Homo sapiens: one gene and its partners. The protein of the gene in region 7 interacts with the protein of the main gene of each other region in a pairwise test. Each region holds a gene or a part of one and is shown on either strand. Other genes may lie near its edges. The genes, in order: SDF4, KCTD17, DNAJA3, DZIP1, PCYT2, RABGAP1L and PRPF40A.

What was found.
Region 1: the proteins of PRPF40A (region 7) and SDF4 interact in binary tests that used the Homo sapiens proteins (3 or more experiments, as listed by UniProt).
Region 2: the proteins of PRPF40A (region 7) and KCTD17 interact in binary tests that used the Homo sapiens proteins (3 or more experiments, as listed by UniProt).
Region 3: the proteins of PRPF40A (region 7) and DNAJA3 interact in binary tests that used the Homo sapiens proteins (3 or more experiments, as listed by UniProt).
Region 4: the proteins of PRPF40A (region 7) and DZIP1 interact in binary tests that used the Homo sapiens proteins (3 or more experiments, as listed by UniProt).
Region 5: the proteins of PRPF40A (region 7) and PCYT2 interact in binary tests that used the Homo sapiens proteins (3 or more experiments, as listed by UniProt).
Region 6: the proteins of PRPF40A (region 7) and RABGAP1L interact in binary tests that used the Homo sapiens proteins (3 or more experiments, as listed by UniProt).

Annotation. Positions count from the first base shown.
Region 1 is NC_000001.11:1,216,431-1,219,216, forward strand, and holds the end of SDF4 (45 kDa calcium-binding protein isoform 2 precursor), read right to left. Parts: exon of another isoform or gene 2,504-2,786; intron 2,498-2,503; coding exon 2,339-2,497; intron 2,204-2,338; coding exon 2,028-2,203; intron 1,375-2,027; coding exon of another isoform or gene 1,259-1,374; coding exon 1,082-1,258; 3' UTR 501-1,081; downstream 1-500. UniProt on the Homo sapiens protein: May regulate calcium-dependent activities in the endoplasmic reticulum lumen or post-ER compartment. Isoform 5 may be involved in the exocytosis of zymogens by pancreatic acini.
Region 2 is NC_000022.11:37,058,242-37,061,741, reverse strand, and holds part of KCTD17 (BTB/POZ domain-containing protein KCTD17), read right to left. Parts: intron 2,430-3,500; coding exon 2,304-2,429; intron 920-2,303; coding exon 820-919; intron 639-819; coding exon 567-638; coding exon of another isoform or gene 204-566; coding exon 113-203; coding exon of another isoform or gene 1-112. UniProt on the Homo sapiens protein: Substrate-adapter for CUL3-RING ubiquitin ligase complexes which mediates the ubiquitination and subsequent proteasomal degradation of TCHP, a protein involved in ciliogenesis down-regulation.
Region 3 is NC_000016.10:4,435,868-4,439,367, reverse strand, and holds part of DNAJA3 (dnaJ homolog subfamily A member 3, mitochondrial), read right to left. Parts: intron 1,967-3,500; coding exon 1,883-1,966; intron 1-1,882. UniProt on the Homo sapiens protein: Modulates apoptotic signal transduction or effector structures within the mitochondrial matrix. Affect cytochrome C release from the mitochondria and caspase 3 activation, but not caspase 8 activation.
Region 4 is NC_000013.11:95,620,707-95,624,206, forward strand, and holds part of DZIP1 (cilium assembly protein DZIP1), read right to left. Parts: intron 1,775-3,500; coding exon 1,637-1,774; intron 1-1,636. UniProt on the Homo sapiens protein: Molecular adapter that recruits protein complexes required for cilium assembly and function to the cilium basal body.
Region 5 is NC_000017.11:81,904,900-81,908,399, forward strand, and holds part of PCYT2 (ethanolamine-phosphate cytidylyltransferase), read right to left. Parts: intron 2,959-3,500; coding exon 2,874-2,958; intron 2,700-2,873; coding exon 2,655-2,699; intron 2,359-2,654; coding exon of another isoform or gene 2,305-2,358; intron 2,000-2,304; coding exon 1,861-1,999; intron 1,648-1,860; coding exon 1,565-1,647; intron 1,279-1,564; coding exon 1,201-1,278; intron 837-1,200; coding exon 771-836; intron 549-770; coding exon 483-548; intron 256-482; coding exon 167-255; intron 46-166; coding exon 1-45. UniProt on the Homo sapiens protein: Ethanolamine-phosphate cytidylyltransferase that catalyzes the second step in the synthesis of phosphatidylethanolamine (PE) from ethanolamine via the CDP-ethanolamine pathway.
Region 6 is NC_000001.11:174,274,520-174,278,019, reverse strand, and holds part of RABGAP1L (rab GTPase-activating protein 1-like), read right to left. Parts: intron 2,921-3,500; exon of another isoform or gene 2,831-2,920; intron 2,188-2,830; coding exon 2,085-2,187; intron 1-2,084. UniProt on the Homo sapiens protein: GTP-hydrolysis activating protein (GAP) for small GTPase RAB22A, converting active RAB22A-GTP to the inactive form RAB22A-GDP. Plays a role in endocytosis and intracellular protein transport.
Region 7 is NC_000002.12:152,661,962-152,665,461, forward strand, and holds part of PRPF40A (pre-mRNA-processing factor 40 homolog A), read right to left. Parts: intron 2,292-3,500; coding exon 2,177-2,291; intron 2,019-2,176; coding exon of another isoform or gene 2,007-2,018; coding exon 1,915-2,006; intron 1,811-1,914; coding exon 1,694-1,810; intron 1,212-1,693; coding exon 1,074-1,211; intron 738-1,073; coding exon 642-737; intron 1-641.

The DNA of each region.
Region 1 (2,786 bases), on a different chromosome or scaffold from region 7:
CGGTCACATGGGCACCACAGGGCAGACTGAAGAGGACACACTCCCGGCTTCCCTGAGCTCCCACTGGGAGAGCCAGGACACAGCCTGGGCCCCCACACGCCACAGAGCAGGACCCCCACCAGCCGTCCTAACACACCCCATTCTCTGCCCCATCTGGGGCTAGGCCTGCCCCACTGCACCCAAAGACCTTGCCATCCTCCACCCAAAACCCCCAGGCGGCTCTGTCTCCTGCCTTAAATGTCCAAACCCCAAACTCAGTGGGCACGTCTGCTGCCCCCTGACCCCTACTCACAAACGCAGCGCTGCCCTCCGTCCTCCCAGAGCCCCTGCCCGTTGCCACCTGCCAGGAGAATCACCTCGAACCGGCCATGACCTCCAACCCTCCACGTGACCCAGCACCAGCCTCCAGCGCTCCAGTGGAAACTGTAACCACAAACCTAGCACGCTGCTGTTGTGTTTTGTTTCACGCCCAAAGAATGAAGCTGACCAAAAAAGGCAACTATATTTAAAGTAAATGTATGTGATTCTTGTCACAACAAATATTTGCATTTTCTCAGCGGCAGCTGCGGGACCTGGGTGGCTCCGACACGCCAGGCCCGGGAAGGACCCGGCACCCTCCCCTGAACTTCCTGGCTACTCATTTCCAGCGAAGTTTAATCTATTTTTAATAATCGTTCAGTTTTCAAGGAAATGGAGGAGCTGTTTTTTCCCACGGAGCGGCGGCCCTGGGAGGGGCCGGGCCCAGAGGTTCCGGCCGCGATGCCGTCAGCGCCTTCGGCAGAGTGACTGAAGCGAGATTTCGTTCTCAGAAGTGAGATGCCACGATTTCGAGGGACCAGGGAGGAGGCGGCGCCGCGGGGCCACAGCCCAGCCCCGCGCCCCGACCGCGTCACAGCCAAAGCCCCGCCGGGGTGCGCGCTGCAGAGGGGACACGCCGCTCATCAACTGGGGCAGCCGCGGTCGGTCGGCCGGTGGCGGGCGGCAGGGAAGAGGTGGGGTCCGGGACAGCCACGGAGCCCGGAGTCACCCGCGAGGCCGCCCCGGTGGTGCGTGGGGGGCGGCGCGGGGCGCGGCCGGGCGCTCAAAACTCCTCGTGCACGCTGCGCGCGTAGTCCACCAGCTTGCTGCCCGTGAAGAACTCGCTGTACTTGAGCACCTCCTCGGGCTCCAGGTGGTGGTTCTGGTTCTCGTCGGCGACGGCGATCATCTGCTTGGCCTCGTTCAGCGCGTTGTACTCGTTCATGGGGTCCATGTAGCTCTGCGGGCGAGCGGGGCACAGGTCAGCGTCGCCTTTCCCCCTCCGAGCTCCGCGGCCAGCCGCACGAAGTGGCTATTTAAGGTGCCTATTGGCTGCAGCGGGAGTGTGGGCACGTTCTGGAAGGTTCCCGAAGGGAGGCGGCACAAATGAAAACACAGGGCAGGGAGAAGCCGGGGGCCCCGGAAGGCCTGCCCGGGGCCAGCAGGGGTAACGGGGCACAGGGGCTACACAGGCCTGGACCCCAGTTCTGAAGGATCCCTAACCTGGGCCGGGCCCACTGGCTGTCGCCAGGAATCACAGGATTCTACATAAAAACAAGATGACTCACTCAGCAGTGGGAGAAAAACAAGCCTACACATGATACCAGTGAAAACGCTTCAGAGGAAGGTGGTAAATTCCAGCCATGTGGCACAGGCCGCCCCGCCCACCTGCACCTGCTGGGCCTTGGACCTGCCTCCATGCTGGGCCCAGCATGAGCTTCCCCTTGTGGTCCCGTTAAAAAGGGGCTGTGAGAACCCTGACGCCTCCGCAAGGGGCTGAGGATGGAGCCCGGCCAGGCTCGCCTGTCTCTGATCCGTCTGAACCTAAACGCCAACAACGGCCATGCAGCCTGGTGGACACCGCTGAGCAAACGCCCCAGTGACCAGCCCAGATGGAGTCTCAGGCCAGACACCAGCACAGCTTCCTGCCTCAGGCCCAGATCCACCAGCCCCTCCCGCCACAGCACCTCGCAGGGCCGGCTCCGGGACACGGCTGCGCCAGGGCTCACCTCCAGCTCCTCGGCGGTCACGATGCCGTCGTGGTTGGAGTCAATGAGCTCCTCAAACTCCTTTTTTCTGTCTTTCACCCAGTTGTCGTCAATGTCCTGGCCCTGCTGGTTCTCCACGGTGCCCACGGGCAGGGAGATGAACTCGGGCACAGAGAGCTGCTTGTCACCGTCCTGGTCTGCGAGACGGGAATGGGTCAGCCCACACCCAGGCTGGGGCTCCCGCAGGACCTGCCCCGACCTCCCGACGATGCCCGGCCCCTGCCAGTCGGTCCTGGGTCCTGGCGTGCCGGCCAGGCTGGACCCAGCCTCACCCAGGTCCCGGACGATCTCCTTCACCATGAACCTGAGCATTCCCCGGCTGTGCTCGGGGTGGAGGAACGACAGGAACTCCTCCTCCGTCAGCAGCAGGTCTGCAGGGGGGCTGTCCGCCTGGTACCAGCGGTCCTTCAGGTTCTCCAGGACTTCCTGTGCTGAGAGGGGCGCAGCCTGTGGGTATCGAGGCCGACAGACGCCAGCACGCAAATCCAGAAAGTTCCGAGAGGTGCTGCCTGAACTCGAGGGACACAGCCACCCGCGAGACCGGGGCCCCACCCTCCAGGATTCACACGTCCCCAGAACATGGCCCAGCCCCTAAGACACAGCCTGGACCCCCGCCAAGACATAACCCAGAGCCTCCCACAGGCCTGATCCCCAAAGGCATAGCTTGGACCCCTCCACACAGCCCGGACTCCCCAAGACAGCCTGGACCCCCCCCTGCCC
Region 2 (3,500 bases), on a different chromosome or scaffold from region 7:
GAAACTTTGGTGGGTGGAGATAATCAGCCGAAAGCTCGGCTCAAGTCCAAGGATCAAGAGATGAGCACCCTCCTCGCTCCACCCCTCCCTCCAGCACCGCCAAGCTACAAACCAGGGATGGCAGCTCTGGGGGCGGGCGAGGGGCCGAGGAGAAGCCCTCACTGCAAGCTCAGCCTCAGGTCTGAGAGGGTGCGGACGGGAACCTGCAAGGAGGAAACGTGAGGAGGAGGCCGGGAGGAGAGGAGGGGGGGCAGGGCCTGCAGCCAGGGCCCAGTCTCAGAGGTGCCCGGCAGGGTTAGTGGGCACAGAGGAGGTGCAGCTGCGCCCCTCCTCCCCAGGCTGGGAGGCAGGAGGTACCAGAAGGGGCGCAGGAGGCGGCAGGCAGGACGCTCTGGGATGCAGGGCCAGGGGGCCTGGGTGGAGGGCACGGGAGGCTGGGACCAGGGCAGACCCGGGATGGAGGCGTGAGCAGGCAGAGAGAAAACCCGGACAGGGGCAGAGAGGGAAGAGGCAGGGTGCAGATGAGATCCAGGAGGAAGAAGAGGTGGATGAAGATGAGGCAGGACCTCCAGCGGGAAGCGGAGGAGGAGGCAGTGGTGGGAGGGAGAAAAGGTTAGCGGGATCCTGAGATGACTGGGCTGCAAAGAGAAAGTGAGAGAAGGGATGGTTATGCGGGTGAGGCGCCAGGCAAGTGGCTGAGCTAACCCTGGTGCCCCCCCAGCAGCCCCGGGGCCCCCGGTTCTGCAGCTGGCTCCAGCAAGGAGTGGGCGGGAGGCTCCGGCTTTGCTTAGCAATCATCCTCCTGGGGGTTGGCTGCACCTTTCTCCTGTGCATCTGCCTCCACCTGCACCTGTTCCACCTCCACCTCCTCCACCTCCTCCTCCTGCTGCTGCTGCTCCTCCAGCTGCTCCTCCGTGCTCTGTGAACCAGCCGGCGGACCCAGGGAAGAAAGAGTGGAGACACTAACAGAGGGGCCAGGGCCTGCTGGCTATCCCCAAAGACCCGGTCTCAGGCAAGGTGAAAGGGACCTCAGGAGAGGGGAGGGCTCCAGCCACAGAAGCTGGGGGCATCTTCTCCGGTCCCCTGGGCAGCTTGGGGAGGGCCTGGGGAAAGCAGCTGAGGATGGGATGCTGTGGGCATGCTCCGGGGTCAGCCTGGCTGCTGTTACATAGAGCGAGGCTGGAGGGAGGGGATGAAGCAGAACAGGGAGGGTGTGGGACTGGGGTATCCCTGAGGGGTGCCTGGGAAGGCCTTGTTTGGAAAGACTGCTCCTCAGTAGAAATGTGGCCAAGGAAGCCCCAGGGCAGACACCACCCAGATCTGGGATGCCAGCCAGTCTCTGACACCCCAGGTCCAGGGGCTTTGGCCCAAAGAGGCAGAAGGAGCAGTCTCGCTCTGCACCCTTGCAGGGCAGCGTCAGCCCTGGCAGTGGTGGGGGTGGGTGGGCAGGCAGGGTGCGTCACAGCAGGACAGGGAGGCAGACAGATAGACAGGAAGCCAGAGGTAAGCCTCCACTGTGTGGGGTTGGGCCCCAGGAGGAGCAGCCTGCCTTCTTCCCAGCCTGGTTCACGCCTGCTCTGTGGCTCTGCGAAGGCCCTTGGGACTTCCCACAGCACTGGGTCCAGGATGGCAGGACCCCCGCTCAGCCCTCTCCCCACAGTGGTACAGTGGATGCTGCCAGGGTGCTCTCAGGAGGCTGCCTCAACAGGCCAGGCGGACACACAGGACTGGCAGCCACCAGGCTGCCCCTATCCTGCAGAGCAGCCAAGGAGGGGGCCTGGGAAAGGGGCAGGATTTACAGCGGTGGCTTCCTCATCCTGGCTCAGGCCAGCTGGGGACATGCACCTGTCCCTGGGGAATAAACGGCCATTTGGGATCCCAGAAGTTCCAGGCTCCAAGGCACTACAAAGAGTATGTGATCCTCCCCTCTCACTTCAGAGAGTGCAGCAAAGGTGCTGGGAGAGGACAAGCCCTGTCCTAAGTCACACAGAGAGTGCCACACTGTGCCCTGACCCCTAGTCCATGCCACAGTGCCCAGTGGCCACTAAGCGGCCCCCTTCATGTAGCCTCTGAGTCCACGCCGGCTGCACCCTGGGGATGCTCTCATTTCACTGCTCCCAGCCTGGGCCTGGGTAACGGCAGGTGGCATGGGATGGATGGCGGTGGCTGTGAGCATGGGGTTGTGCATGGGCGGTGGCGGGAGAGAGGTGGAGGGATGGTGCAGGCGCAGGGGCGGGACAGGCGGGGAGGGTGGAGGGAGACAGGAGACTTCTCCGGACACAGGCTGAGGCGGGTGGGCTCACCTTGGTTTTGCGGCTGGACTCTGAGCTCAGCCCGTTTGGGGTGCTGTGGAGCTCCTTGGACACCACACACAGGAACTCTGCCTGGTCCTCGCTGCCGTAGTTGTAGGAGGAGCCGATGTTCACCAGCTAGAGGGGCGGAGCATGGGGAGAAAAATGCAGGTTGGTGTTGGGGGCCGTGGGGCAGGATACGACAGACCTCGGCACTCAAATCAAGATACCAGCTCAGGTCCTAATCTTGCGGCTTGTCGGGCCCACTCCTGGGTTTGTAGAGGGCACCTCTGGGCAGGAAGGTGGAGTCTTCCCCCTTGCAACCTGTGCCTGTGGTCTGTGCCCCAGGACCAGCCCCTCCGCCTGGCTTGGCTGGCCCGATCCCTGGTGGAGGGTGGCAGCATTACCGCTGTCCCCACCACCACCTCCAGCCTAGCCCCAGAGCCAGGGGGCCCTTTTCTAAATGCAGGCGGAGGCCTCTAAAGGGCGGCTGTCCCCCATTCCAGATGTGGCTGACACAGCCCCAGGACAAGGTTGCAGGGTGGCATTGGCAAGGTGGAGCCCCACAGAATATTCCCTTCACTCCTGGAAGCAGAGGTGGGACGACAGGTGGTCCACTCCTGAGACCAAAGGGCAAATGACCAATGGTCCCTGGCCTGCTTGCTCAGCCTCTGAGAGCCTGTGCAATTGCCAAAGACACCCAGAGGCTCTCAGAGTGGCCCTGCCCTTGTTCCAGGGTCCCTAGAATAACCACGCCCACAGAGCCCTTCTGGCTAAGAAATAAGAAAGTTCTTCCAGGTGATGAGTCTCATTCAGCTCTCAGGGACCCTGAAGAGAATCTCAGGCCTGCTGAAGGCCTCACAGCTAGGAAGGGGTGGAGCAGGGAATGGCATCGGGGATCCCAAGTCCTCTCTGAGTGTTGCAGACTTCAATATGGATTTCTAATGATTTGCATGACACTAATGCCAACATAGGGAGTCCTACGGAGGGCTGTAAGCTTTACTGATGGCCCTTCTAATCTCACAAGAGTCCTACAGAGGAGGTACTGTTAGCCCACTTCACCGATGAGGGAACTGGGTCCCGCACAGGAGATGTAACTTGCCCAAGGTGGCAGGCATGTCTGTGGCAAGGCCTAGAGGTGAAGCCAGGCCTCTGGCTCTGCACTAGGCCCATTCTTCCATCCCTCCAGGCCATCCTGGGGGCTCCGAC
Region 3 (3,500 bases), on a different chromosome or scaffold from region 7:
TTTTTTTTTTTTGATTGGGAGTCTCGCTCTGTTGCCCAGGCTGGAGTACAATGGCGCAATCTTCGGCTCACTGATGCCTCCCGGGTTCAAGCAATTCTCCTGCCTCAGCCTCCTGAATAGCTGGGATTACAGGCACCCACCACCACACCTGGCTAATTTTTGTATTTTTAGTAGAGATGGGGTTTCACCATATTGCTCAGGCTGGTCTCTTGGCCAGGCTGGTCTCAAACTCCTGACCTCCTGATCTGCCTGTCTTGGCCTCCCAAAGTGCTGGGATTATAGGGATTATAGACGTAAGCCACTGCACCTGGCTGAGACCTCAACTCTTGAAAAAAAAAAAAAAATTAATCTTATCTTCCATAGAAGCAGGTTCCAAGACTGTTTAGTTATGTTATCAATTAGTTTGAGTTACCTAATAAGAACATATTATTTTAAAATTACACTAGTAAATAAACTTTTCATTAGATCTAGTTGACAGATATTTACTCAAAAAAGATTTACTGAGTTGAGCCTGTTCTTCTACGTGGCTGTCTACTCTTATAGATATATGAGCTCCTATATATACTGAACCCCTTTAGGATGGCCAAAGTCGGGCAGGTCTGGTGCCTTGCACCTATAATCCTAGCAATTTGAGAGGCTGAGGCAGGAGGATCTCTTCAGCTCAGGAGTTCAAGACCAGCCTGGGCAACATAGAGGGACCCTGTCTCTTAAGCAAAAAAAAAAAAAAAAAAAGAAAAGATTGTCAAAAAATCTGGGAAAAAGGTCTACTTTCAGAAAACTATGGAAGTGGGGTCAATAGCTGTTTTCAGAGATGTATGCTTTGTCCTCTGATTACATTGACATTCTTATAGGACAATAATGGGCTTCTACTTTTACAATAACCTCTATCCCCAAAAAGCAGTGATGCCCTGAGGTGGAGGAAGGGGATGTCATTGAATAAGGGCTGAATTAATTAATCCAACTGTGAATTCCCAAATCCAGCTACAAGTGTAAATTACCTGGGGAACTTTATTAGTACAGATTATTGGATCCTGTTCTTTTTTTTTTTTTTGAGACGGGGTCTTGCTCTGTCGCCCAGGCTGGAGTGCAGTGGCGCAATCTCAGCTCACTGCAAGCTCCGCCTCCCGGGTTCACGCCATTCTCCTGCCTCAGCCTCCCCAGCACCTGGGACTACAGGCGCATGCCGCCATGCCCGGCTAATTTTTTTTTATTTTTAGTAGAGACGGGGTTTCACCGTGTTAGCCGGGATGGTCTCGATCTCCTGACCTGGTGATCCACCTGCCTCGGCCTCCCAAAGTGTTGGGATTACAGGCATGAGCCACCACGCCTGGCCTGGATCCTGTTCTTCATTGAGATTCCAAGTTAGTCTTAGAATGTTGTTGTTTTGTTTTTTTTTTAATTTTTTATTTTTTGAGAGAAGGTCTTTTTCTGTTGCCCAGACCATAGTTCTATGGCACAATCATGGCATCATGGGTCACTGCAGCTTTGAGCCCCTCAAGTGATGAACCTGACTCAGCCTCCCAAGTAGCTGGGTTTACAGGTGCGCCACCACCACGCCTGGTGATTTTTTTTTTTTTTTTTGTAGAGACGTGGTCTTACTACATTGCCCAAGCTGGTCTCAAACTCCTAGGGTCAAGCCAACTCCTGAGGTCAAGTGATCCTCCTGCCTCAGCTTCCCAAAGTGCTAGGACTACAGGAGTGAGCCACCATGCTTGGCCTGGAATCTCTTTTTTTTTATTTTTCTTAACAAGATTACTTGGCGCAGGGACATGGCCTTCACACTGGACTGTATGACACACCAGGCTGTCCCAGGTAGCAATGCAACCTTTGATTCATACACATAGCTGAACAGCAGTGACCGCATGCACCGAAGTCATATTACCTCATAGGCTTCTGCCAGCTGGGAGAACTTCTCCTTGGCTTTGGGATCATCCTTATTTGTGTCAGGGTGATACTTCTTGGCAAGCTAAGGGAAAAACATGATAAATTACTCCAGATACAATGTGAACCCCAAATACCAGAAACAACAAAACCCCCGATACAACAGAACCCCAAATACCAGTCATAATTATGTTCCCTTTATAAAAGTTGTCTCTCGGCTGGGTGCAGTGGCTCACGCCTGTAATCCCAACACTTTGGGAAGTGAAGGCAGGCAGATCACTTAAGCTCAGGAGTTCAACACCAGCCTGGGCAACACAGCGAAACCCCTCTCCACCAAAAATAGAAAAAATTAGTCAGGCGTGGTGGCACATGCCTGTGGTCCCAGCTACTCAGGAGGCTGAAGCACGAGAATCACTTGAACCTGGGAGGTGGAGGTTGCAGTGAGCAGAGATCGAGGCACTGCACTCCAGCCTAGGTGACGGAGTGAGATTCTGTCCGCCCCACAAAATAATAATAATAATGATCTGTTTTAATGTATCCATCTCTTAACTTGAGGGCAGGAACTGATTCTGATGTATCTTTGCCCTTAGCACCCAGCATGGCTTAGAATAGGTAAATGAACAAAAAAGAAAAACAAATTTTTAAAAAGGGGGCCGGGCGCAGTGGCTCATGCCTGTTATCCCAGCACTTTGAGATGCTGAGCTGGGTGGATCACCAGAGGTCAGGAGTTTGAGAACAGCCTGGCCAACATGGCGAAACCCCATCTCTACTAAAAATACAAAAATTAGCCAGGTATGGTCACACGCGCCTATAAACACAGGTACTCGGGAGGCTGAGGCAGGAGAATTGCTTGAGCCCAGGAGACAGAGGTTGCAGTGAGCCAAGACTGCACCACTGCACTCCAGCCTGAGCCACACGGCGAGACTCTGTCTGAAAAAAGAAAAAATTTTTAAAAAGGGAAGAAAATGACTGAATAAATAGACGTCTCTGCTGTTTCAATTATTTTTGTAGGTAAATAAAATACAGTAATTGCTACAGCTTTACCTGATCTTTTTACTTCCGTGCCTAAAAATCTGAATGGTTCTCTAAATTAAGTCTTTCTCTTAAATTATGTCTCTGGGACTTACTAAGGGCCTCAAATCAACTGTCATGTGAGTCCAACCCAGCCTCCATCTTTTCAATCTTTTCCCACTCTTGGATCAGGCACCTGACTCTTGAGCTCAGGAAGAGACAGGCCATTCGCTCTTCACAGGCCAGGATCTCTGCTTCCTGTCCCCATGCCTCTGTTCATTCCATTACAACCCAATTAAAAAAAAAAGACAACCCAGTTAAAAGTGGGCAATGGATCCAAACACACGTTTCTCCAAAGACATACTAATAGCCAACATGCACAAGAAAGATGCTCACCATCATTAGTCATCAGGGAAAAAGCAAATCGAAACTCTAACGAGATAGCATTTCTTATTCACTAGGGTCGTAATTAAAAAGACAGACGATAATAGTTAAGTGTTCACTGGGATGTGGAGAAATCATGGCCCTCATATGCTGCTGGTGGGAATGTAAAATGGTGCAGCTGCTTTGAAAAAGGCTGGCAGCTTCTCAAAAGGTTAAACATCCAG
Region 4 (3,500 bases), on a different chromosome or scaffold from region 7:
AAAAGGAGGTGCTAGTTTGCCAACCTAAGAGGCCAAAAGGAAACACCAAGGTTTCTGAGGCCATGGGTTCTGAACTGACAACACAACTCACAGGACAGAAACAGAAGAAATTTAGGTGGGACCTTAGGATTTTAGAGCCACATCCTTCAGTTCATGAGCGACCAGCTGTAGTCTACAGCCTGCTGGAAGCAACTGTCAACAGTTCAGTTCAGGACACAGCTCCTGGTTTCCTACCATATACCAGGCACCTCACTGGATGGCCACTGGCAGGCTAAAAGAAGATAAAAAGACAGGCCCTGCTCTGCACGGGAGGCGAGTAGACACAGCCATGGAGAATCCACATATAATGTGTATGTCATCAGATCCCACTTAGGGACTACAGAAATGCTATAGCCTAGAGGCTCAGGAGAACTTTCTGAAAGCGGTACCTGCCCCCCTGGCTGAATACTAAAGAATGAGTAAAAGACAGGTCCCGAAAACTGGGAGCTGCAGGACAGGCAGGAAAGCAGCCAGAACCGAGGAAAAAGACAGAAGGGCATGTTCTGAGAGGCATGGGCTGCTGGGCCGCTGGAGTGCCAGGAAAGCAAAGAACAGAGAAAGATGGCCCAGGGCCCAGAATCCGAAGGACCCTGCGTGCTGGTAGGAAGTCCGGAATAAGGGTCACTGAAGGACTTCAGACAGGACAGGGACATGGTCAGCCTGACTGCAGTGGAGCAGGTAGATTTGGGTCAGGGAGGAAACATGTGAGCACTGAAGCAAGAAGCAGTGGTCCCTGTTTCCAAAGTCTACTTACCTTTTTTAGAATGACCCAGGCTTTTAAAAAAGAATCCTGAATTCATAAGCTCTCATCTCTATTTGCTTCCTAGTTTAAAAAAATTGTTCCCCTAAACCGCTGTCACTTCCAAATGAAAGTGATTATGTTTGATAAATGTAACAGATCATCAGCTGACCAGTTAGCAGTGTGTGTGTGTGTGTGTGTGTGTGTGTGTGTGTGTGTGTGTGTGTGTGTATTTATTTATTTATTTTTTGAGACTGAGTATCACTCTTGTTGCCCAGACTGGAGTGCAATGGCGTGATCTCAGCTCACTGCAACCTCTGCCTCTTGGGTTCAAGCAATTCTCCTGCCTCAGCCCTCCGAGAAGCTGGGATTACAGGCATCTGCTACCACGCCCAGTTAATTGAGCCGAGGTGGGCGGATCACCTGAGGTCAGGAGTTCAAGATCAGCCTGGCCAATATGGTGAAACCCCGTTTCTACTAAAAATACAGTTAGCAGTATATTTAAACTCTAAAATTAAATCTGGTGCTTCAATATGCCCTTCTACACCTTTTGAAATTGAGAGCTACATCTGAAAGATGAAAAATGAATAGCTAGGTTATACTAACCAATTCAAATTGACTTTATGGAGAGAAGAAACAAAACAGTTCTGCCAACTGTTGTGTATGCTATTTGCCAACAGCAAGCATGTAACAAACACCTCTTATGATTTAGGCATGCTGTAGGAGAAAAATAACAGCTAGTCACCTTCAGGGTTACTAAAAAAGACAAACACTTTTTCTGCAGATGACACTCACTGTAAATTACTTCACTAAGAAAAAGGAAGGCATCCACTGCAGCTGTCACCCACTTGCACGTACCTGACTATCAAGAAGCTGCATGACATTATGGAAATCCTGGGGATATGGAGAACGGTCTTCTTTAAACTCGTGTGCATCTTTTAATGTGCCTATGTTGGACTTGATCTGCATATTGGACTTCTGGATTTCTGACAGTTGCTATAAGATAAAATTCAAGCTCAGTACTACAGTTAGACTTTCATAAGATGGAAACAGAGAATAAAATCAGGGAGCACATAGCTGTGTTTTAAATCTGACTGCCCTCTTGGACGCTCCTGGACGCTCTTGGACGCTTCTCCTGCTTCTGCTTCCCTGTGGTTTTACTGGTTTGTTTCTACTGCTTGCTGGTCTTCCTATCAGAATATGTACAGGGTGAAAAAAGGGGAAGGAAAATCTAACTTTCTAATCTTAAACGAGTCTAATTTTTTTTTTTTTTTTGGAGACAGGGTCTCATTCTGTTGCCCAGGCTAGAGTGCAGTGATATGATCATGGCTCACTGCAGCCTCAACCCCCTGGGTTCAAGCAATCCTTCCACCTCAGCCTCCTAGGTAGCTGGGACTACAGGCGTGCACCACCACACCCAGATAATTTTTGTATTTTTTTTGTAGAGACAGGGTTTTGCCATGTTGCCCAGGCTGGTCTCAAACTCCTGGGCTCACACAACAATCTGCCTACCTCAGCCTCCCAAAGTGCTGGGATTACAGGTGTGAGCCACCAGGCCCAGCTGGGGCTTAAAATTTTTTATGGGCACTTAATAGGTACCAGAAACAGAAGAACTGAATGCACCTGGTTCTTAAGCTAGTTTAGTGAGAGGCCAACACTGTCCAGGGACCACATCAGTAAATCCACTGGGGACATAACGTTTTTAATTTTACCCTTTTCTTTTCATATTATTCCCAATGTTACTCATGGCAAAAACCCTCAGAAAACCACAGAAGGTAACACATTAACTTCAAAAACAAAAGTATGGGGGAGCGCACGTCTCCTCTCCTCAGTGTAGGCTGCTCATAGTGACTTCATTTCAGAAAGGACAGCAGGGAAAGGAGGAAAAAAGAGAAAATCTTCAGTGGAGAAACCTGACAAACACTACCACAGCCAGGTAGCCAAGGTCAATAGCAACAGTTATAAGTCATGCAGATTCGTAACACAAAGTCTCAGACAAAACATTCAACTCTACTGCTCCCACACAAAAATGCCACAGACAGAGCGTAAATTACCAAACATGGCTGTGTTTCAATAAAACTTCACTCATGACACTGAAATGTGAACTTTAATGAAATTTTCCTGTGTCACAAAATAGTCTTCTTTTTTTCCAATGTTTTAAAAATTTAAAAACTGGCTGGGCACAGTGGCCCACAAATGTAATCCCAGCACTTTGGGAGGCCCAAGTGGGAGGATCACTTGAGGCCAGGAGTTCGACACCATCCTGGCCAACATGGTGAAACCGTCTCTACTAAAAATACAAAAATTAGCTGGGTGTGGTGGCATGTGCCTGTAACGCCAGCTACTCAGGAGGCTGAAGCACGAGAATCACTTGAACCCAGGAGGCAGAGGTTGCAGTGAGCTGAGATTGTGCCACTACACTCCAGACTGGGCAACAGAGAGAGACTCTGTCTTGAAAAAAATAAAAAGTAAAAATGTAAAAACTATTCTTATGTCAGAGGCCATTCAAAAACAGGTGGTATGCTGGACTTGGTTCATGGGCCATTCGCCAAATCTCACGCTAGAGTTTAAAGAGTTTTAGGAAAGCCCTCAGGTGAATTCCAAAAATCTCTATTTTCGTTTATAAAACTTGTTGGCCCCTAGAGGGAGCTCAAGGACCTTCGCTCAGCTCCCTTCCTTTCTCCGTTTTCCCCAAAGAAGACTCAGGTCAAGTCTAACCAGG
Region 5 (3,500 bases), on a different chromosome or scaffold from region 7:
AGCTCCTTGGCTTCCTTCTTCTGGTTTCGCGCCTCATACTCCAACCTGAGAGGGCAGGGTAAGTCTAGCAGAGAGCGCCCATGAGGCGGCTCCGAGGGGGAGGGCACGGTAAGTCTAGCGGAGAGCGCCCATGAGGCGGCTCCGAGGTGCCCCCACCCAACTGCACCTGTTGGTGATGATCCGCTGGACGATGAGGTCTGTGGTGAGGTTGCTGCCACTGTCAATCTGACGGAAGATGCCCCTTCTCTTGGGCTCCTGGGGGTCCAGAGAGGAGGAGCGGGATGAAGGTCCCTGCTGACCTCCCCAAGACCCATCTGATGCCCTGCCCCAGAGGGAGACCAGCGCCCAGGGTCCCATGGGAGTGGTGCAGTCGGAGCAGCTGCGCCACCATGCCCGTTTCCCAGGCAGGCACAGTGAGTCATTAAATGGCTGGGAGGTGCCAATGGCAACCCCTGTGCCCAGCAAGGGCCAGCATGACCCACCTGGTATGGGTCGGAGCCATCCCTGTCAGGGATAATTTCTGTCTTGCCGTGACACACCAGGTCCACCTGGAGAAGGAGTGGGGTCAGGAGCCCTCCCCGGGGAGGCAGCGGCCGTCGCCACCCACAGCCCAGCACAGGCCCCGGGGGTTGGGAGAGCTGACCCTGCCCTTTCCTCAGCCCAGGTACCTCCTGGGCCCCGCCTAGGAGCCCACAGCCAGCCTGCATTCCCAGCCCATGCAGGAACAGAGGTGAACAGAGGGAACGAGGTGAGCCCATGCGGAGCCTCACCTTGAAGTGACTTAGGAGCTCTGCTGTGACCGCGTACGGGGCTCCAATCACCACTTCTGACACGTACTGTGGGGACAGTGGGGGCAGAAAGACTTGCTCGGTCCCTGCTACTGGTAAGCCAGGGCCACAGGGTGGTGAGAGACGGCTCAGACATGGGGCGGGGCTGCCAGTGAGTAGCAGGGATGGGCTGGGCAGGCTGGGGACCCCTGGGGCTCCTCCATGAGACAAGAAGGAACAGCATCTGGAGACCTGACCACCCCTCCTCATGCCTCAACAAACAGGTATGGGCAGGTGCCACAGAACTCGGGGTGCTGGGTGCAGCTCTGCCAGTGACCCAAGCCCCCCTGCCCTGGCTCAGGGAGGCCCTTAGTAGGGGGGATGTTGTGGGAATGTCTCCCCATCCTTGGGCTGGCTCCTGGCCCCCACTCACCCGGCAGGCCAGCACGCTCAGAGTCCGTTCATGCAGATTCATGATGGGGTAGTTCTTCCCCTTGTAGTGATTGACCTCCTGCGGCCAGAGTGCGGCTAGCTCAGCCCGGAGACTTTTTGGGGGGACAGGGTGTGCCCCTCCCGGCTGTCCCTCATGGGAAGAAGTCGGGGAGGTTGCTCGCCCTTGTGGGGATGCCCCAGACAGGACAGCCCTGGACCCCAGAAGCCTACGATCACCCCCCAGGGTCTCCTGTGACTTCACCTGGGGCCCCTTCCCAGAGACCACCTGCACCTAACAGCAACGCTTAGGGCCCCTCGAGGGCCCATCAGCTGCCCAGGGGCCCAGGGAGCAAGAAGGCAGTGACCTGGTCAAAGTGTAAGCCCGCGATGATGTAGGGCCTCTCTGCCAGCCTGTGCACCTTCTCCAGGAAGTCCACATGCCCGATGTCTGCACCCAGGTTAAGAAGCAGTCGGGATGGGGATGACAGGGAGCAGCTCCCTGACAGCTCATGCCCAAGGGCCTCCCCGCCATCCTCCCTGCTGACAGCTGCTCCCCTGCAAACCAGCCAGCCCAGTCTGGGGGCCCCAAGGAGTCAAGTGAGGCCCCCGGGTCCCACCCCATGTGGCACATGTAGGGGAGCAGCAGAGGCCCAGAGGATACGGAACAGGTCGAAGGCACCAGCCACATAGATGACTGTCTCCCCTGGCTGGGGCTCCTTCCCAGAAGCAAACTGGATGATCTTCTGAGATGTCTGCAGGAACTGGGATACCCCGGTCCAGGGGTTCCGCCCACCAGGGCACTGCAAGCCAAGAGAGGGAGCAGGTTGGCGGGGGAGGCCTCCCAGGTGCTGCCCTCACCAGGTCACCAAACCCTCAGCTGTCACCTGCCAGCAATCCCATTTCCAGCCAGTCATCTCGGGCAGGGGACACACTGCCAGGCCAGGTGGCAGGTGGGACTGTGGCGCCACCCCACAACCACAGCAGGCACCGCAGCAGACACCACTTCAGCCCAGCAAGCGACCACCAGGAGGAGGCAAGGAGCCCTGTGGCAGGTGCACACAGCCCTTGGGAGGGACCTGGTACCCTGAGACCACTGTCTGGTCACCTGGGAGCAGCCTTCTGAGGAAAGTATGTCCCCGGCGGGTATCGGGTGAGGGGGCTACAATGGGAGAGAGGGCCAGGCCACTTGGTTAGAGGCCACCTGTCCACAGGCAAATCCTTGCTCCTCCAAGCAGTGGCTGCCGTGACCGGCCAGCCGGTGCCACCACCCGCCTGCCCTCCCTCCCAGCATCCACCAGTGAGCCAAACCTGGCAGTCAGTGCCTGGTCAGTGCCAGGGACAGAGGGAGGAGGGTGAGGCTCTGGGCTGGCCTTTCCCCAAGGGATGGCTGGGACAGGTGGCCGGGGGAGCCCCCTGCAGCTGCGTGCTCAGCTCTCCCTGCACAGCCGCACTCACCTTGCCAAAACTGTCTGCATACTCCCGGTACTCAGAGGACATCTCCTGCACAGAAGGTCAGAGCAGGGCTGAGGGGCCTGCCCTCCCGGCGTGGCCACCCCAGAACCGGCTGGGGATGGGGAGCAGTGGGCAGGAGGACCCTGAGAGGGCAGGGAGGTGCCCCTCCTTTCCCCTGGAGACCTCGACCCAGGGGCCTCGGGGATTCCGCCGCCGACTCACCTGGCTGCTGTGATGGGCTTTGGTTACCAGCAGCATGCGGCCCACGAGGTCTGTGGTGGACACCCCTTGCGTGCGCTTGCATTCTCTGGGGGACACAGTGGGAGTGGGGTCTCATCCTGGGACACTCGCAAGGCTCTGCCTCCTGCTACCACCACTAGGGACACTAGCAGCCCTGCTGTGGCAGAACCCACGGCTGCCCCAAAGACTGAGGGTCCCCTTCCTGTGCAAGGCCATAACAGAAAACCTGGGTTGGGAACATGGGGAAGGCCTCCACGCTTTTATTGACTGAAGGGAGTGGCAGGAGCACAGAAAAGGACCCTTGCTGGGGCCCAGGTGTGCAATGCCAGGGAGAGGATGGGCACTGGGGTAGCAGCTCTGCTTCCTGCCTCCCTCACACCCACGTCCTGCCCGCTGAGCATCTGCAGCTGAGTGAATTCTCAGCTGCAGCATCTCATGCGGGAGCCACTGGCCTCATGTCCCTGACGTCTGGTAATTCAGATATAGTGCCAGCTCCCCAGCAGTGCCAGCCACGTCCCCCGAGCTCAACAGCTGCCACCTCACAAAGCTGTGCCTTTGGAGCCCTGGGGCCATGGGTCTGCAGCACCAAATGGCAAGGGCCTCCAGGCC
Region 6 (3,500 bases), on a different chromosome or scaffold from region 7:
TTAGTTCTCTGTTAAAGGAAAGTCCAAATAACCAAGGCCACCACTAGAAGAAACCCTCAATAGTGTTTTTAAATATTATATAACATTCAGATTCATCAACTACTTCTCAAATTCAATAACAATTTTATTACATTCTTACTAAATACAGTCTTACTAAATACACCTGCCAATTCAAGAGAAACTAAAATTTGTTAGACATTATACTTGACCTGGAGGACCTTAGAGAAAGGAGTAAGGAGTAATAACACAAGACAGAATATAACATTCAACTGGATCTTAGTGCAGTGGAAAGATCCAAGACTTTTCATCTCTCAGGTTCTAAACTTCTTCCATAAAAATCAAACTTTATTTGATCACACATTCTCTGAGTAATGTGTAATTTCAAGGACATAATTTAGAAATTTTAAAAATCAGGGCAACATTTTTGTGTGGCATATGAGATAATGTTAAATTTAAAATGTATACTTTGAATCAGAATATTATAATATACTATTATATAGTTTAATAGAATAAATTATAAATAAATTTTCTTTTGTGGACCAAATATATATTTTATTGCAAAATAAAACTAAACTAGGTGTTACATTAAAAACATAAAAACTATTTTTATAACTTGATATGCAAAATTCTTATATTTTGTTCTTCAAAACTGTCAACTGGCTTATTTTTATCATTTTTGTGGCTTCCTTCTGAACAAGTATAAGAAAGAAGTTACAGGTATTTGCAAGCCTGTCTCCAGAAATAACAAATTGTGGGTCTAAAAATTATTTACTGCTAATAAATGAAAAGTTAAATTTTATATAATCTTTTTTTCTGTTTAGCCTTTATTTTTAGACAGCTTAATATGTGATCAATGTATGTGATTTATATAAATGGTGAATACTCTCTTTAAGGAAATGAAAGAATAATTATCATTTTAATGCCCTTCATTAACATATTATATTTTCATATCAGTATTCACGAATGCTTCCTGTCAGTAACCAAAAGTCTACTGTGGGTATAAACTAAATAATATAAAAATTAATGATAAAACAAACTGATCCATTATATTCTAAATATGAATTAATGGTTTAATGACAGTAAAGCACTTAGGGTAGGCATATAACTCGGCAGGTAAAACTTTAAATTTAGTTTAAAAGTAGATAATGAAGGGGCAAAAAACAGGCAATTAACAGCTATCTGGATGAAGTAGGAATGAAAAAACACAATGGAACAACGAAAAATGTGACTATTCAACATTTATACATTCTGTTCAATACTAGACATGATAAATAATATGAAAAGTTAAAAAACTAAGAAAAAACTATTTGCTACAACTGAAATATTTAATATATATTACAAGCATCCCGAAGGCCAAAAGACTGGAGCCAATAATTAATAAATGAAAAACTATAAGTAAACTATAATGCAAAAATAGTTAATAATTTAAAAATATTCAAAATTCTAAAATATTTCCTTTTCATCATTTTCTTTAATATTTCTCCATCACTAGTCTCCACAAATGAAATAACTCTATAGTGGTATATGAAAAACAAAGCCCAAATGCTTTCTCTATAATCTAATAAAATTAATTCAGGCCAGGTGCAGTGGCTCACATCTGTAATCCCAGTGCTTTGGAAGGCAAGAAGATCAGTTGAGGTCAAAGGTTCAAGACAAGCCTGGGCAACAAAGCATGACCCCATCGCTACAAAAATAAAATTTAAAAATTAGCCATGCATGGCAGCACACACCTGTAGTTCTATTTAATAGCTACTCAGGAGGCTGAGGTGGGAGGATTGCTTGAGCATGACAGTTTGAGGTTACAGTGAGCTATAATGCCCCTATACTCTACCCTGGGCAACAGAGTGAGACCCTGTCTCTTAAAATAATAACAATAATAATAATTCACATATCTTTTGGGGAGGATTTTTTTAAATAGTGGAGATTTCCCCCATAGAAGCATAAAGAATAAAAATGAACCTCAAATTCTCAATGAAAGAATAAGTCCACTTTGAGTTCCAAATTTTTTTTAAAACATGACAAGCAACATTGTTCATAATATAAAATGTAAAGCAAACAATAAGGGATCTTTTAAGAAAAGTCACCTTTTGGGGTTTCCTCGTTAAGTGCCAGAAATACTGGTGCATTGGGGTTCCACATGCCAGTGATGACATAAGCTCTCCCATCATAGCTCTTTCCCATGGATTCCTATAAAAATTCAAACAGTAATTACTGATAAAAGACATCAAAAAAATCACTACTTTAAATTACATCTTACTTTAAGCAATACAAATTATTAAAATTTAGATTAACAGTCAAGCAGGAGCTTTATATTCACTGTAAATTCTTTTCATCCTACAAAAGCATTTATTTAAATATTAAATTCTTCTACAGCTTTCTTCAAGCACAGTTTCTATTTAAAGACATGTACCCTTGGATAAAAGGAGGCATATACTTACATGCTGAATCAAAAAAACATAATATTGTTACAAAGTTGTATTTAACTTGATCTTGACACCAATTGTCCAAATCTCATATACACATAAGAATGTATATGGTTTCTATTAAAACAATAATATAGAATTAGCTGAAGACAGTTAAACTGAACTAGTAGCTAATCACAGTAGGGAAAGTTAATATTTTTCTTCTAATATTCTAATTTTTAATGAATTCTTAAAATATTAATTTAGTTTGTAGCAATTAATACCTTTAAAATTAACACTTGTCTATTTTCTATATGTCAGATATTTATATACTTTCTTACAATCATAAATTAGTATTAGGAGACTAATTTTTGGTTTGTAAGCAGCATCCAAGTGTATTAACTCTCTCCCTCTACTGTTACACTTACTCCCTCTTTCTTCCCTTCTCTCCTTCCTCCTCTTCTCCATTCTTTAAGACTTTACCAAGCCAGCTCTTGACTCTCACTAAAAAAGCCAGCAACTCCTATGGCGAAAGCTAGGCTACTTATAGCTTGTGTATATGTGTGTGGAGAGAGGAGGGGTAGAGTTTGTCCCATGAAAGAACAACACACAGCATACAAGTATTTCCATATGCAAATGAACAGTATCTACAATATTTCAGTTTTTGTAGCGATTTCCTCACATTATGAATAGAGACTGTTAAAAGGGTCAGACTAAAACAAAGAGAAAAACTTTTCTTTTTTCATTATTACCCATTCACAGATGTTTCTCTGAACCCCCTATAAAATTGTGTCAGTCATTTGGTAATTACTATGTATATTTTTCTAGTGTATTAGTAATACTTCACTAATCAGATTGTGTAGCTTGAGCGCAGGGACCATGCATTCCAGAGATGAAATACACTCAAGGTCACTTGTAAACGAAACCCTCTCAGCAGCCCCAACACACTCATATGATAATGGTCTCTTTCTCTCCTCTACACACACACACACACACACACACACACACACAGAGTCACCTGTTGCTTAATGATAGGGTTATGTTCTAAGTTATGTGTCATTAAGTGATTTCTTTATGCAAATAGAATACACCGTACTT
Region 7 (3,500 bases):
GAGTGGCTGGGATTACAGGTGCCCGCCACCACTCCCTGATAATTTTTTTGTATTTTTAGTAGAGACAGGATTTCGCCATGTTGGCCAGGCTGGTTTCAAACTCCTGACCTCAGGTGATCAGCACACACCTTGGCCTCCCAAAGTGCTTGTTTTACAGGCGTGAGCCACCGTGCCCAGTGAACCTTACCTATTAAAGTGACCTGAGATGTTATTGTTTCATTGCTTATTTTAACAAAAACTTACCATTTATTCCATTACTTTCCAGAAACTTTCTTTTCTACACAGCTAATGTGGTATAATACCTCAAATGTGCCTAAAAGCTGTCTTCTATCTGCTTTACAAGAAAAATTTCAAGTTTTCTTTATTAGTCAATCAATCCATGTGGCTGCCAAACTGCTCAATTTCTAAAACTTTCTAAAAATACAAAACAGTCTTCACATACAAATCTTTATATTCCCATGGAAACTTAATAGTTTCTTTTACTTAAAAGCAGTTTTTATAGGAAAAAAACCATTCTCTAACCATCCAGGTAAGTACATTTGTATAAAAGCAGTGAATATTAAGCAACATACTTTCATCATTCTAAGTTCTTCAATTTGTTTATATTTTATATATTTTGTATATGAGAATTCTAAAATTACCTCAAGCACATGCATAAAATCTTTAAATATTCGTTTTCTTTCAGATTCTAGAGTTATGTCCTCAAATGCTGGCTCTTTTACAAATCTCTCACGGATCTGAAAAATTCAGATACAAAATAAATATATGAATACCAAGAAAAGTACAACGATACATCTAAAATAAATCATAACAGCAAGTGAAAACTGTGATGAATCAGTCCCCTTAAAGTCCATTATTTCCTCCCTTCAAAAGTCCAAACCATTCTTTACAAATATTCCTAAACAGAGTCAACAGCTGATTTAATGCTTTTATTATATTCTAAATATATTTAATATATTCTACAAATAAATTTAGCTTATTTTTGTGGCTATAAAATGAAAAATAAAAATATTTTAAATTTCTCAACTGTAAAGAAAAGAATTCCATTAGAAAAAAATAACAAGTATACATACATCTTCCCAGACAGCATCCAATTCTATCGGAGGAGCAGCTTGTTTTAACATACTCTTAAATGCAGATTCTTTTCGTTTCATCTTCCGAGCCTCTTCTTTTTCTCTTTCACGTTCACGGGCTTCTGCCTTTTCTAGTAACTATTAAGAAAATCATATTTAATCAGTTATAATAGTATCATAACTATTAGCTGAAATAATTTATTGTTAATTTAGGAATCACGCATTGTTTAAAACGAGCTTGTCCAACCTGTGGCCCAGGACCGCTTTGAATGTGGCCCAACACAAATTTGTAAACTTTCTTAAAACACTATAAGGATTTTTTGCAATTTTTTTTTTAAGCTCATCAGCTATCGTTAGTGTACTTTATGTGTGGCCCAAGGCCTGATTTATAATGGCCATTTTATGTATAATACCAGTTAATTTGAGCAAAGGAAGTTTAATATCAATCCATCATCTAAATAAAGTTTTTTGTTTTACCTTACCTGAAAGACTGGCTACCACTCTGTAAAATTCTATTCATATTCCCTTATTCCAACACTCTGCAACTTAGCTGCTTTTATCTGAATAAATTAAAAACTATACTACTAAACTAGTTACTTACAACAGAAAACATAACTTACACTATTGAAAGCCAATTTGATATTTCCAGCATCTAATGTAGTTGATCTTTTAGTTGAACTGATTATCGCCACAAAATCTTCAAAAGTAGTGTTTACTTCAACTACAAATCCTTTATCCTAAAAAAAAGAAATCTTAACATTAATAATGCATAAATCAAAGGAATACAGTACTAACTTTTAAGATATACTATTGGTTAAAAGGTAAGAATAAATATATTTACCTTTAGAATGTCTTTTATTATCTTCTTCTCGTCATGATAACGTGCTTTAAGATCCTCAACATAAAACTTGAAAAGATCAAGTGCAGTTGATCCTAATGAAAAAACTAAAGAAGTCAAAAGCTAGCTCTAACCAAAGAGCTGCAATTACTTTGTTGTTTAAAAAACAAAAATAAAGCACCCTTTCCCCCAACACAATCACCTTTGCATTTGGCCCATTTCAACTACTACCATAACGGTAAATTAGGAAAGAAAATAATCTTACCAGGCTGACCAAGCATATTAGTGAATCTAATATCAGAACTAATAGTTGGATACAATTCCATCCAAGATGACATAGAATGCAGTTGTCCATGTTCATGTAATTCATCTAAAAATATCTAGGGAGAAAAATTATATTTGGAAAGTCATCTCGAGTACATGAGAAATAAGCGTCTAACATGAAAACACACAAAAACTTTGACATAGTTAAAACTCTTCTACCAATGTTATCCCAAACCTGTTTGGGCACAAAGAATATTTGCTATTTGGGCAAAGTAACAACTGCCTCTAGGCAAAAAAATATTTTGTCCTTTAGAGAAAATAACTTTTGAAACTGCACATTATCTTCCTAAGGTTCTATTTCCTACCCTTTAAGATAGAACCTAATTTTTAGCTTTAAAAAAAAAAAGGTAAAAGTTAACTTAAATTACTGGATATCTACCTCAAATGATGAGGCTAAAGAATGTATATGCATGTTTCCTTAAATATATACTTTCTGTCTTTAAAAATAGTGCCTAATGTGTTCTAGGTATTTTTATTTACTTTTAAAAAACAAGGGGCCTTAAGAGGAGGATGTATAATTTTCCCAAAGTAGTTTGGAGACCTAGGATTCAAACCCATATCTAGTTTCAATTTCCACACTTCCTGCTTCCAACCCAATCCTCAGGGAGTTTAATCCTATACACCAGGGGATCCCAACCCCCAGCCACGGAACCGGAACCAAGCCACACAGCAAGAAGTGAGTGGTGGAACAAGCATTACCGCCCCAGCTCCACCTCCTGTCAGATCAGTGGCGGCATCAGATTCTCATAGGACTGCAAACCGTATTGTGAACTGAGCATGCCAGGAATCTAGGTTGTGTGGTCCTTATGAGAATCTAATGCCTGATGATACCAACTCCCCACCCCACCCCACCAAGAAAAACTGTCTTCCACTAAACCGGTCCCTGGTGCCAAAAAGGTTGGGGACCGCTGCTATACACAAATGTGCCTAAAAGAAACTGTAACCCTATATTCTGTTCCCACAATTCCTATACCTGCACTGTTCAATAAGGTAGCCACTGACCAAACGTAGCTTCTCGGTACATGAAATGTAGCTAGTCTGAGTTGTGATGTGCTGTTAAGTACAAAATACACAATGATCTTGAAGATTTAATACCACAAATATTAGCAATTTTTAAAAATATTGATGTGTTAAAATAATATCTGGTTATATTGGGTTAAATTACTAAAATAAATAGGAAATTAAAATCGCATTTGTGGCATTCACATTTTTATTGGATAGAGCTGTCCCAAAGTAACATCAGGCACTTACAACTGCACTCACTC